2 separate regions of the Homo sapiens genome follow, and region 1 is linked to region 2. Evidence: fine-mapped expression QTL. A gene starts in region 2. The other region holds a variant in brackets. All regions are shown on one strand. Distances are from middle to middle.

The links.
Region 1: its variant is fine-mapped to the expression of FRK in subcutaneous fat (GTEx, PIP 0.93).

What each region holds. Positions count from the first base shown.
Region 1 is chr6:116,014,922-116,020,307 of GRCh38, reverse strand. All of the region lies in intron 1 of FRK (fyn related Src family tyrosine kinase), which reads left to right. Among named protein-coding and RNA genes, the nearest start is that of FRK, 43 kb to the left of the region's middle. The variant TCTTC/C (reference allele first, on the strand shown) is at 3,155.
Region 2 is chr6:116,057,762-116,063,147 of GRCh38, reverse strand. It overlaps FRK (fyn related Src family tyrosine kinase), which reads left to right and starts at 2,257. Exons shown (of 8, transcript NM_002031.3): 1 at 2,257-3,180. The coding sequence starts at 2,837.

The DNA.
Region 1 (5,386 bases), 43 kb after region 2:
AACAAAAAACAAAAAAAAGGAATATTGATCTAGGACAAAAGAAGAGATCACTTTAAATTATTTAGAGAATAATAAAATATTAATGAGCTGTCTTTTATAAATTTTTTTATGGTAGTCTTTGTCTTCATTCTCTTTGGCTCTTCATGTCACAATGATTTTGTAATACTGTTTTCTATAGATGGAATAAATCATAATTTGGTTTTACTTTTGAAATGTTTGATCAATTTTTTTGTTGTTGATAGTTTAGAAAAGTTTCTTTAAGATCATAATTTATTATTGGTAATAGCTGCACATTTAGGATTGCAAATAAATATTTATTTGAATCTCATTTTGCTTTCTGTTTTCAAATTTTAATCCTTATGCAACCAAGCCTACCTCTAAATAACAAATAGGAGTTAATGTTTAACTTCATAAACAGATATTCTGTTATTCTACAGGAACATTTTTAGAACCTGAAGTTTGGGTCTTAATAAGTCATAACTATTGGCTATTTCTGACCCACTCTGTAGAGTGGTATTATTATTTGAGGACAAGTCCATACTCCCCACTTTCTATTCTGCACAATTTTAGTGAAGTCACATGTAACTGCTTTGCACATCTGCCAACACACTGGCTCTGCTTATTATTTCTGCATGACAAATCATGCAATTTCTCTCATTTCTAGTTCCCTTTTCCACAAAGTGGGGATTTTGAAGCACTTGCTCTGACTATCCCCAAGAGTTGCCTTGAGAATAAGTGCCATATTCTAGGTGATGGCACTCAATTATAAAGTGGAATCCAAATGTTATTCTTTACATGATTGTTATAATTGTCATCGTCGTCATAGGATTGTGATCATCTGATTGGCTATGAGGTTATTCATTACTGGTAAAAGTGGACTTGTTCTTTTGCTCTCTGTACCAAATCTTCAGTATATTCTCTCTATATTCTTGTCCTACGTTTTGAAATTATTTGGTCAGCTTTTTAACTTTCAAGTGGAAGACTCACATCCTCAAATAATCATCTGTTTATTCATTCAACAGTATGAATGCAAGTTTATTTAATACCATGTGTTGTGCTAGGCTCTTGGAATTTCAGTGATAAGTAAAAGATAAGGTTTCCACTCTCTTGAGCTTACATGTGTAATGGGAAGTAGGAATTAATCAAATAATACCAAAAACAAAGTAAGCTAAGGAAAGAGCTATGAAGGAAAGGAACAAGGTGCTCAGACTCATTTGATCTGTAGAGGAAGGCTTTCCTACCACAAGCCCCTTGCCTTGCCATCCAAAGAATGCACTGGAGATAAGTCAGAGGGGAGCTGGCTTGTGCAATGAATCTATTATCATTCACCTTCAGAGAAATATGCTCCTCAAGCTTACTTGAAGCTCTAATTCTAAGGCTTTAGGATGTTCCTTTACTGTGCCCTCTTTCCAACAGCAGGTCTCTTCAAATCTATAAGATTTTAAAATCCTTTCCTGGGTCACAGTGAACAGGTCAGATTTTATTATGCTCTGAGTATTTCAATGATTAAAAAAAAATTATCCCAGGCAAAGAGCATGGTGGAAATGTCTTTGTATCACTAAAATTCTGGAATAAAATTTTATTTAATTGCAATATGCTTACTAGTAAGGCAGTCATTGAGGCAGGGAATATTTCAGTTTCTCAAAACACATATTTGTATATAAATAGTTTACATGCTATTTACAAATAATATTTCCATTGTGTATTATTAGAGTATATCCTCTTATGAAAACACTTTGTAAGAGAGCAAACATTTTAGTCTACTTCAAGACACTTATAATTTTAATAAACTGAATTATTTAAAACACAAATATAACTGGAAGGACTCTGCCTTTCACCCTTACCCCAGGGTATAGGCTTGTTCTGGACAGCGAGAGGATGCATAATTCTGTTGCTACCATCTGCTATGGATAATGGTGTGAGAAGAGCTTTGCCTAAGGATTTGATGTGCTAAAGAAAATTCTGTTTTCAAAGCTCTGGCTGTTTGTGCTGCTGAGAATAAAGACATGGAATAGATGGGCCTTAATTGAGCAGAACAATTTAAGAAGTGCTGGGGTATACAGAGGGAGACCCAGAATCTAGTTTGGAGTAAGGGTTGGGTAGGAAATCAAACTGCTTTGCATACAGAAACATGGAGAATTTTGTTGTAAAATCCCTGGCACAGAGAAAGGAGGAAGAGGAGTGGTTCCTCAGCAACCTATTAGGGGGCCCTAGACATAAGGGAAAAAGTTTTGGGAAATTCCCTCTTCAGCAGAAAGGACATTAAATTTCAATGAACAGAAATTTCTGGTATCTGTTTGAACTTGTTTTCTGCTCTGTATTGTACTTAAAGCTTTGCTCTTCACAAATTTTATACAGCATTTGGATTGAATTTGTAATGTTTTGTAAGGGTTGAAAATAAAGAAGTGGGGTCCAGTGTGAGGCAGTGTGAGGCAGAGTGGACTGGAGAGAAAAAGGTGCAAGGTGGGCTATGGCAGGATGACTCAGGATTTAGGAGAAGATGTTAAGAGAAAGTCCCCCTCTTCTAGAAACAGCTGTGTTTTTCAAATTGTAGTACCTTGGTTACCTGCCTCTGAATTGCCTGTGGCACTTGGGAACCTACAGCATCCTGAGCTCTACCTCCGACCTTCTTAGACTATTTGCCTTGTACACACTTCCTGGGACAGTCTTCAGAAACTGGAGTTTGAGAACTGAGGCCCTAGAGAAGGTTAATCCTTAGGTAGTGATAAAAGAAAAACCTCGACAAATTAAACTTAGCAGAGTTTAACTGGGCAAAGAACTGTTGGCAAATCAGGCAGTCTCCTGAGCCAGAGTGTGCTCAGACAGAGTCCAGCTGGTGGAAAGGGACTTATGGAGAGAAAAAGAAAAGCGATGTAGAAAAATTGAAAAGAGGTACAGAAACAGCTGGATTGGTTACAGCTCGGTGTTTGCCTTATTTTGAACAGGGTTTGAACAGTTGGCCACCTTTGGTTGCTCAAAACTTGGTGATTGGCACAAGAGTAGGTTACAGTCTGTTTGCACATCCATTTAGGTTGCAGTTCACTGTGTACAGAGAAACCTTTAGGCTGAACTTAAAACGTGTAAGGAGACAGCTTTCTGCTTGATTTAACAGTAACACGGGTGTGTGTTGGGAGGTAGGGAGGTGGGGGCTCTT[TCTTC/C]TCTCAGTCTGCCTTTTTCCACAACAGTTCTGAGGAGTAAGCTTGTAATGTATTTGTGCAACTGCTTCTTTCTGTAATTCTAAGCAGGAGCAAGCAGTAAACTAATTTTCAGATTTCAGAAAAGTCCATCAGTGCAGGCAGAGCCTTCCTTTTGTTTCCTGACAAATAGTTTGTTGACACTGAAAACAAAAGATGTGTTTTCTGGCACTGTTTCAGGCTTTCTTTTTGAGAACAAGCTGCTCTGTGGATGTGTTCAGTTTCTACTATTTCAAAGTCCAGTGGGTGGCATTTACATGGGTTTTAAACTATCTTTAGTTATTAACATTGGTGTTATTATTGGTAATTATTCATGATAGTAATGCTTAGTGAGTATCTGGGTATACAGGGCTAAATTATTAAAAAGAAAGAAAGAAAGAAAGAATGAAGGAAGAAAGAAAGAGAACGTGTGTGCTTGTTCTGACCTGTAGCAGACCAGGTCTCACACCTTGACTCCCTGGGGGCACCTGCTTCATTTTAATCCCCCCAAAGCAGTAAAACTAGTACATATCTGTACATCCATGTTGGTATCTGCAGCTACACACACACACACAAACACACACACACATCCATCCACTCATTCACATATATGTGTGTGTGTCTCTGTGTCATGTATGGATTAAGATTAGACAGTATAGTTTTTAAAATTATTTTTTATTGGTACATAAAAGATGTACATATTCTCTGGGTACATGTGATAATTTGATACATTAATATAATCTGAATTGGAATATCCATTACCTTAACTATTTCTCTTTTCTTCATGCTAGGAACATTCAAATAAGGAACAGTAGATTAATGTTAACTATAGTCAACCTACTATAGAGATTGTGCTCTGCTGTACTTTGGCCTCCTTTAGCCACAGCTGGAGCTGGAGCAGCTGAGACATAGGGCACCAAGTCCAGAAGGTGCACAGAGCAGCAGGACCCTGTACCCAGCCCATGAGACCATTTTTCTCTTTTAGGCCTCTGGACCTGTGATGGGAGGGGCTGCCATGAAGATCTCTGGCATGCCTTGGAGACATTTTCTTCATTGTCTTGGCTATTAACATTTGGCCCCTGGTCACTTAAGCAAATTTCTGCAACTGGGTTGAATTGCTCCCCAGAAAATGGGCTTTTCTTTTCTACCACATGATCAGGCTGCAAATTTTCCAAACTTTTATGCTCTGCTTCCCTGATAAATAAAAGTTCCAGTTTCAGATAATCTCTTGGTGAATGCATATGACTGACTGCTTTCAGAATCAGCCAGGTCACATCTTGGATGCTTCACTGCTTAGAAATCTCTTCTGCTAGATACCCTAAATCATCTCTGTCAAGTTCACAATTCCACAGATCACTAGGGCAGGGACAAAATGCCACCAGTCTCTTTGCCAAAGCATAGCATGAGTGACCTTTACTCCAGTTCCCAATAACTTCCTCATTTCTATCTGAGACCAACTGAGCCTGGAATTCATTGTCCATATTACTATCAGCATTTTGATCAAAACTGTTCAACAAGTGTCTAGGAAGTTCCAAACTTTCCTACATATTCCTGTCTTCTTCTGAGCCCTCCAAACTGTCCAACATCTGCCTGTTACCTAGTTCCAAAGTTGCTTCCACATTTTCAGTTTTTCTTTATAGCAGTGCCCCACTCTACTGCTATCAATTTTCTGTATTAGTCCGTTCTCACACAGCTATAAAGATATTACCTGAGACTGGATAATTTATGAAGAAAAGAGGTTTAATTGTCTCACAGTTCTGGATGGCTGGGGAAGACTCGGGAAACTTACAATCATGGTGGAAGGGGAAGCAAGGCACATCTTACATGGTGGCAGGAGAGAGAGAGTTCAGAGAAACTGCCACTTTTAAACCATCAGCTCTTGTGAGAACTCACTACCATGAGAACGGCATGGGAAGAAACACCCTCATGATCCAGTCATCTCCCACCAGGTCCCTTCCCCAACACATGGGGATTATAATTAGAGAGAGATTTGGGTGGGGACACAGAGCCAAACCATATCAATAAGTAAATTTTGAATAAAAAATGAATAAGTGATTTTCAAGGTGGTAGGTTGTGGTTGTGGCCTTGGCACCAGCTCGTGTAAATACAGAAGAAACACTTGGCCTTATTGAAAGAGTTGGTTAGTTTCTTTCACAGGCATTTCTGAGAATTTAATAAAACAATGGATTATCTCCCCGGAAAAAAATGCATGT
Region 2 (5,386 bases):
AAAGCTTTCCAAACAGATAGCTACTCTTACTAGTAATGACTAGGAATGACTTATCACCTCAGTCATTGTTACTATTATAAAAACTACTCTATAAACTATTATGAACACCACTCATCTTGGTGTGCAAGATGAGCCAGAGATGGGAATAAGCTGGAGGAAGGGAGATCAGTTAGGAGGCCTCTGGAATAATCTAGGAAAGAATATTCTGTTTTCTGTCTGGTGCCCAGCTGTCGCTCAGAAGGAGCTTTAAAAAAAGTTTGTGGAATAAATGAAAAGGAAGACTGAGCAGAATTCAGTGATTGATTAGCTCAAAGAAACCAGGGAGCAAACGAAAGATAACTGCAAGACTTGGAGATTGAGTGACTGGAGAATTCTGGTACTATGGACACAAAGAAACCTTCTCTCTTTCCACCCCTCAGCTCTGCGTTCTCAGGCCATTGCTCACCTGACATCTTTGGATGGTTGGCCGCTTTTTGAATTTCACTCACTTGCTCAATGACTGTGGTGTGCAGGTCTGCTGCTTTGTCTTTTTCCAGAATGCCTTGTCATAACTATAGTAAAGGTATATCTGAATTTAGAACCCCGACAATTCAAAAATCTAAAACCCCACTTACAAATTGGGTTTGAATACATCTCTCAGGTTGCTTCCAAATCTTTCTTTCTTTTCTTTTCTTTTTTTTTTTTTCATTTTTAGATCATGTAGATGTCTCAGGGAAGACTTCAGCATCTGTGCCTCTGTTGGGGCATTAATAGAATCCTATGCTTTTACATCCATTATTGTATTTGGAACAAAATATCCTTTATGGTCATTTGGTATTATATATTTTCTGTTTTGTATATAATATGAAATTACATATACAGTCTATTTTAGGTCTCATATCATTATAAAACAAAACAACAACAGCAACAACAAAAATTTGGCTCAGCTTTTGGCTTTTATACTTCTGTCAACTTGTTATTTGTACTCTGACTCCAAAGACAATTGGAGAAACTTGGGAGCATAACACAAGATTTTATTTTAACCAATTGATCTGTCCACTGCTATGGACTGATTTTTGCACAAAGTAATAGCAGGTTGGGCTGATGCCATGGTTCTCTGATTTTCTTTTTCTTTTCTTTTCTTTTCTTTCTTTCTTTCTTTCCTTCTTTCTTTCTTTTCTTTCTTTTTCTTTCTTTTCTTTCTTCTTTCTTTCTTTCTTCCTTTCTTTCTTCCTTTTTCTTGAGTTTGATTATTCTGATTACTAAATGCCTTGCAATTTGAAAAAGAACAGAAGTTATGAGCTTGTACTAGGAATAGGTTAGCCAGGTTCAAGGGTCTCACAACATTTAGAAAGATTGTTTTTAAGAAAGAAATAAAAAAAAAGTCTTATAGAGAGATCAGTGACACTTCATAAACAAGTTTGCAATGCTGTCTACTAGTATAAATGACCGTACGTTGATCTGCCAGACTCATTGCCCGGCTGTTTTTGCCAGGGCACATATTTGTGAGACAGCTGCTCCGAACTAGGGAAGGTCAAGCAAAAACCACTGCCTGTCTAGAGATGGCTGTCCTGATGTCAGTCTCATTAGTTCCTGAGTTCTTGCCAAGTTAGTAAGAACTAGCATAGATCTGGAGGTCAAAGTTTAGCAGAAAGAGCCCCCACAGCAGTGTGCAAAGAGCTCTTTTTCTGTTCTACTCTTTTTTTCTCTACTGGTCACCTAGTTGGTGTGTAGCGTGTGTGTGTGTGTGTGTGTGTGTGTGTGTGTGTTTCCCAAATAGTACTTGAAGGATAGGAAATTAAATGTCTGTGGGAAAAAGCAACATTTTGGGTTCTCAGCATTTTAGTCAGCTGCTTTCTTACTTTTCCAGACTGTGACTATTCTTTGAAGCTATTAAAATCTATTCTTGGTAATGAGAAAAGGGAGTGACTTGATGGTTCTTTTCCAATTGCTCTGTGTCTGACAAGAAATACCTAAATACTTTAATTTGCCTTTTTAAATTTCCCCTAGTGGTGGCAAAACAATTCTACTCCTATTTGTCAGGGAAAAAAATCTCTGCCGTGAATTTCAGTGCTGGGAACATAACAAGACAAAAAGCTACCTGGGCTAGCCTGTTTCTCCAGGATGAAACAAAAGGAATATAGATTTTAGCGGCTGCTTTAACAGTTTGGTAAAGGATCTGGTCTATCTTGGGTGTGGGAGATGGGAGGGGTAAAGAGGTCAGAATACCATTTAGATCACAGACAGAAAGAAACCAGGAAGTAAGGGGAAATTATTACAGTCTGTTCATAGCTCAGAATGTTAAAGGCAACAGCCTCTGCTGGTTGGTTATTCATTAGCAAAAAGGAGAGAGCCGTCCAGATCCGGACTGGTCGAAAGACAGGAACAGACTTGAAACAGGGGGAGAGCTCCTGGCGAAAGCAAGACGTGGAGGTTTTACCAGGGGTTAGTAGCTTCCTCTTGCTAACTTTTTATTGGGACAAAAGGCAAGATGGCACCATTCTGTTCTCAGATATTTGTCTAAATAAAGCCCTTTTAATTTTATTTTATTTTTGTTGTGGGATTCTTAAGCAGATAAGAAGAAAAGACACCTTCCTAGTGAGCAGCTGCCCAGCTCCTGCTCAGTTTTGCCTCGGGGTAGCACCTCCAGCCACAGAAAGCAAGCCGGTAAGTCTCTCCAGGTAGGACTTGCTGCAACCCAGCTGCTGGACTGATCTGAAACGGGACTTTGCATACTCTCCGAAGTATGGTGAGTTGGTGCTGACTTCAAAGTTGCCTGGTGAAGGAAGATAAGGTGGATCGCAGAGACTAAGGGGAGAGGGAGAAGCCCTGCTCCTCTTCTCCCCACCAAGGCACAATGAGCAACATCTGTCAGAGGCTCTGGGAGTACCTAGAACCCTATCTCCCCTGTTTGTCCACGGAGGCAGACAAGTCAACCGTGATTGAAAATCCAGGGGCCCTTTGCTCTCCCCAGTCACAGAGGCATGGCCACTACTTTGTGGCTTTGTTTGATTACCAGGCTCGGACTGCTGAGGACTTGAGCTTCCGAGCAGGTGACAAACTTCAAGTTCTGGACACTTTGCATGAGGGCTGGTGGTTTGCCAGACACTTGGAGAAAAGACGAGATGGCTCCAGTCAGCAACTACAAGGCTATATTCCTTCTAACTACGTGGCTGAGGACAGAAGCCTACAGGCAGAGCCGTGAGTAGTACAAACTTATACTTAATTTCTGAACTCTCTGAGGGCTGGGTAATGAGTTTTCCTTTCTACTTCTCTACAACCCCCTAATGTCCAAAGAGTTGCCTAAAAAGTATGAGGAAGTACTGGCAAGAAACCACTAATTGAAACACACCTCCCCCGCTAAGTGAGTGTGAAACTGGCCAGTAATTGTTGTTGAGATGACTTCAATTACAGTATGTACATCCACAGGTCCAGGGTGTATTTTCAAAATAAACAAATGATGTGTTTAATACTGTACCTTCTCTTTGGCTGTAAAATAACTCATGCCTCACTTTAGCAATAAAATTGCATTTTGTTTGAAGGTAAATTATAAGACTTCCCTTAATGATATTCTCAAATCTAAACTTCAGATTCTTTTTTTTAAAAAAAACTTTTGAAACATTCCAGGGTAATATATCAACTCTAGCCCTAGCTCTAATCCTAATCCCTTTCATTCTGATGGGAATATACAGGGCTAATGTAGAAGACAACACTTAGAAGATACTAATGTTCTCAGTGACATCATGATATAGATTTTTTTTTAATTCCCAGATCCTGAGATATGCTACCCAAATTATGATATCTTTTGGTTTTTATTATGATTAGAAACTGGCCAGCTACAGACATTTGGTAAATTTTGATAGGAAAAAGGACAACATCTCCTTGAAGAGGAGATAAAGACTTTATCCTGGTATTTGAATGAAATATGAATTATATTGCAACAAAAGAGGAAAGTTTTTATGTACTTATTCACCCATCCATCCATCCATCCATCCATCCACCTACCACCCCTCCAAGTGCCAGGCATAGACAGTAGTGGGCCTGGTGAGTTGGGGAGGGTAAAGGAGATTATTCTAGTAGTGACTGAATACAAAGTGGATAAAACATAGTCTTGACAATGGATACTTGGGGTCTGGTGGGTTGGGAAGCAAATGGAGACTGTCATTGGCCCTGATCTCATTGCTTCCTGAATCCAGTGAAACCTTAGACTGGGAATGTCTTTCAAAAAATGTACTCATTTTTTTTTTTTTTTTTTTTTGAGACGGAGTCTCGCTCTGTCCCCCAGGCTGGAGTGCAGTGGCGCGATCTCGGCTCACTGCAAGCTCCGCCTCCCGGGTTCACGCCATTCTCCTGCCTCAGCCTTCCAAGTAGCTGGGACTACAGGCGCCTGCCACCACGCCCGGCTAATTTTTTTGTATTTTTAGTAGAGACGGGGTTTCACCGTGTTAGCCGGGATGGTCTCGATCTCCTGACCTCGTGATCCGCCCGCCTCGGCCTCCCAAAGTGCTGGGATTACAGGCGTGAGCCACCGCGCCCGGCCAAAATGGACTCATTTTATAGAATGGTTTCTTAATAGGGAAACCATTGGAGATTCTCTTATGTTCTCATGTAAGTGTTTCTTATTTTTATGTGAGCGTCCCTTACTGGTCCAGGGAATAAGATAATAATAAATAGCCATAGAGCATTGTTTCTGCTTTCCAAACTCATACATCACATATGAAGGGAGGTTTGACGAGTTTTGAGTTTTGAGATTCTTTTCAACACCAAGAACCTATAAATGTTTAGAAGGGTCTTAATTTATGCTTAAATAGAAATGAATTGAAATATACTTTTAATGAATGGAATTGATCAGTTATCAAGTGGGAAAATCACCTGTGTGAACATTTGCTTTCTGTGATAATCTACAGGAAATATCTTTATATATTGGATACACTTATGTGCATTTATCTGTTTTCACTACTTTATGATTTCTATGTCCTGTATGGCATTATGCATATTTTATATTTGGCATAACATGTATATTATAATAATAATATATTAATGTTTCATGCCTTGAATTCATAATCTGTTAGTTTTAAATATATTCAACTCATATAACTACTTAGGACCTCAATTTCCTCATCTGCAACTCTCTGGGGTTGCCATGACCAATGGATTTCCTGACTATCTGGGAACAGGAGCTCTTATGTTCGTATGTAGTGGTTCAGTTACATTCATGCTTGACTGTATTAGAAATGCTGAAGAAAGCAAATTAACTGAAACAAGTCAAGCAATCCGAAGGTATCATATTCTGGGTAAAAGGCTTGAGAGCAGTGTTCTTATTAATTTAGATTTTCTTTGCCTACAAACACAAAATAAGGCAACTAAATTATTATGGCTATTTTTGATTCTCAGAGTCATTTGTAGC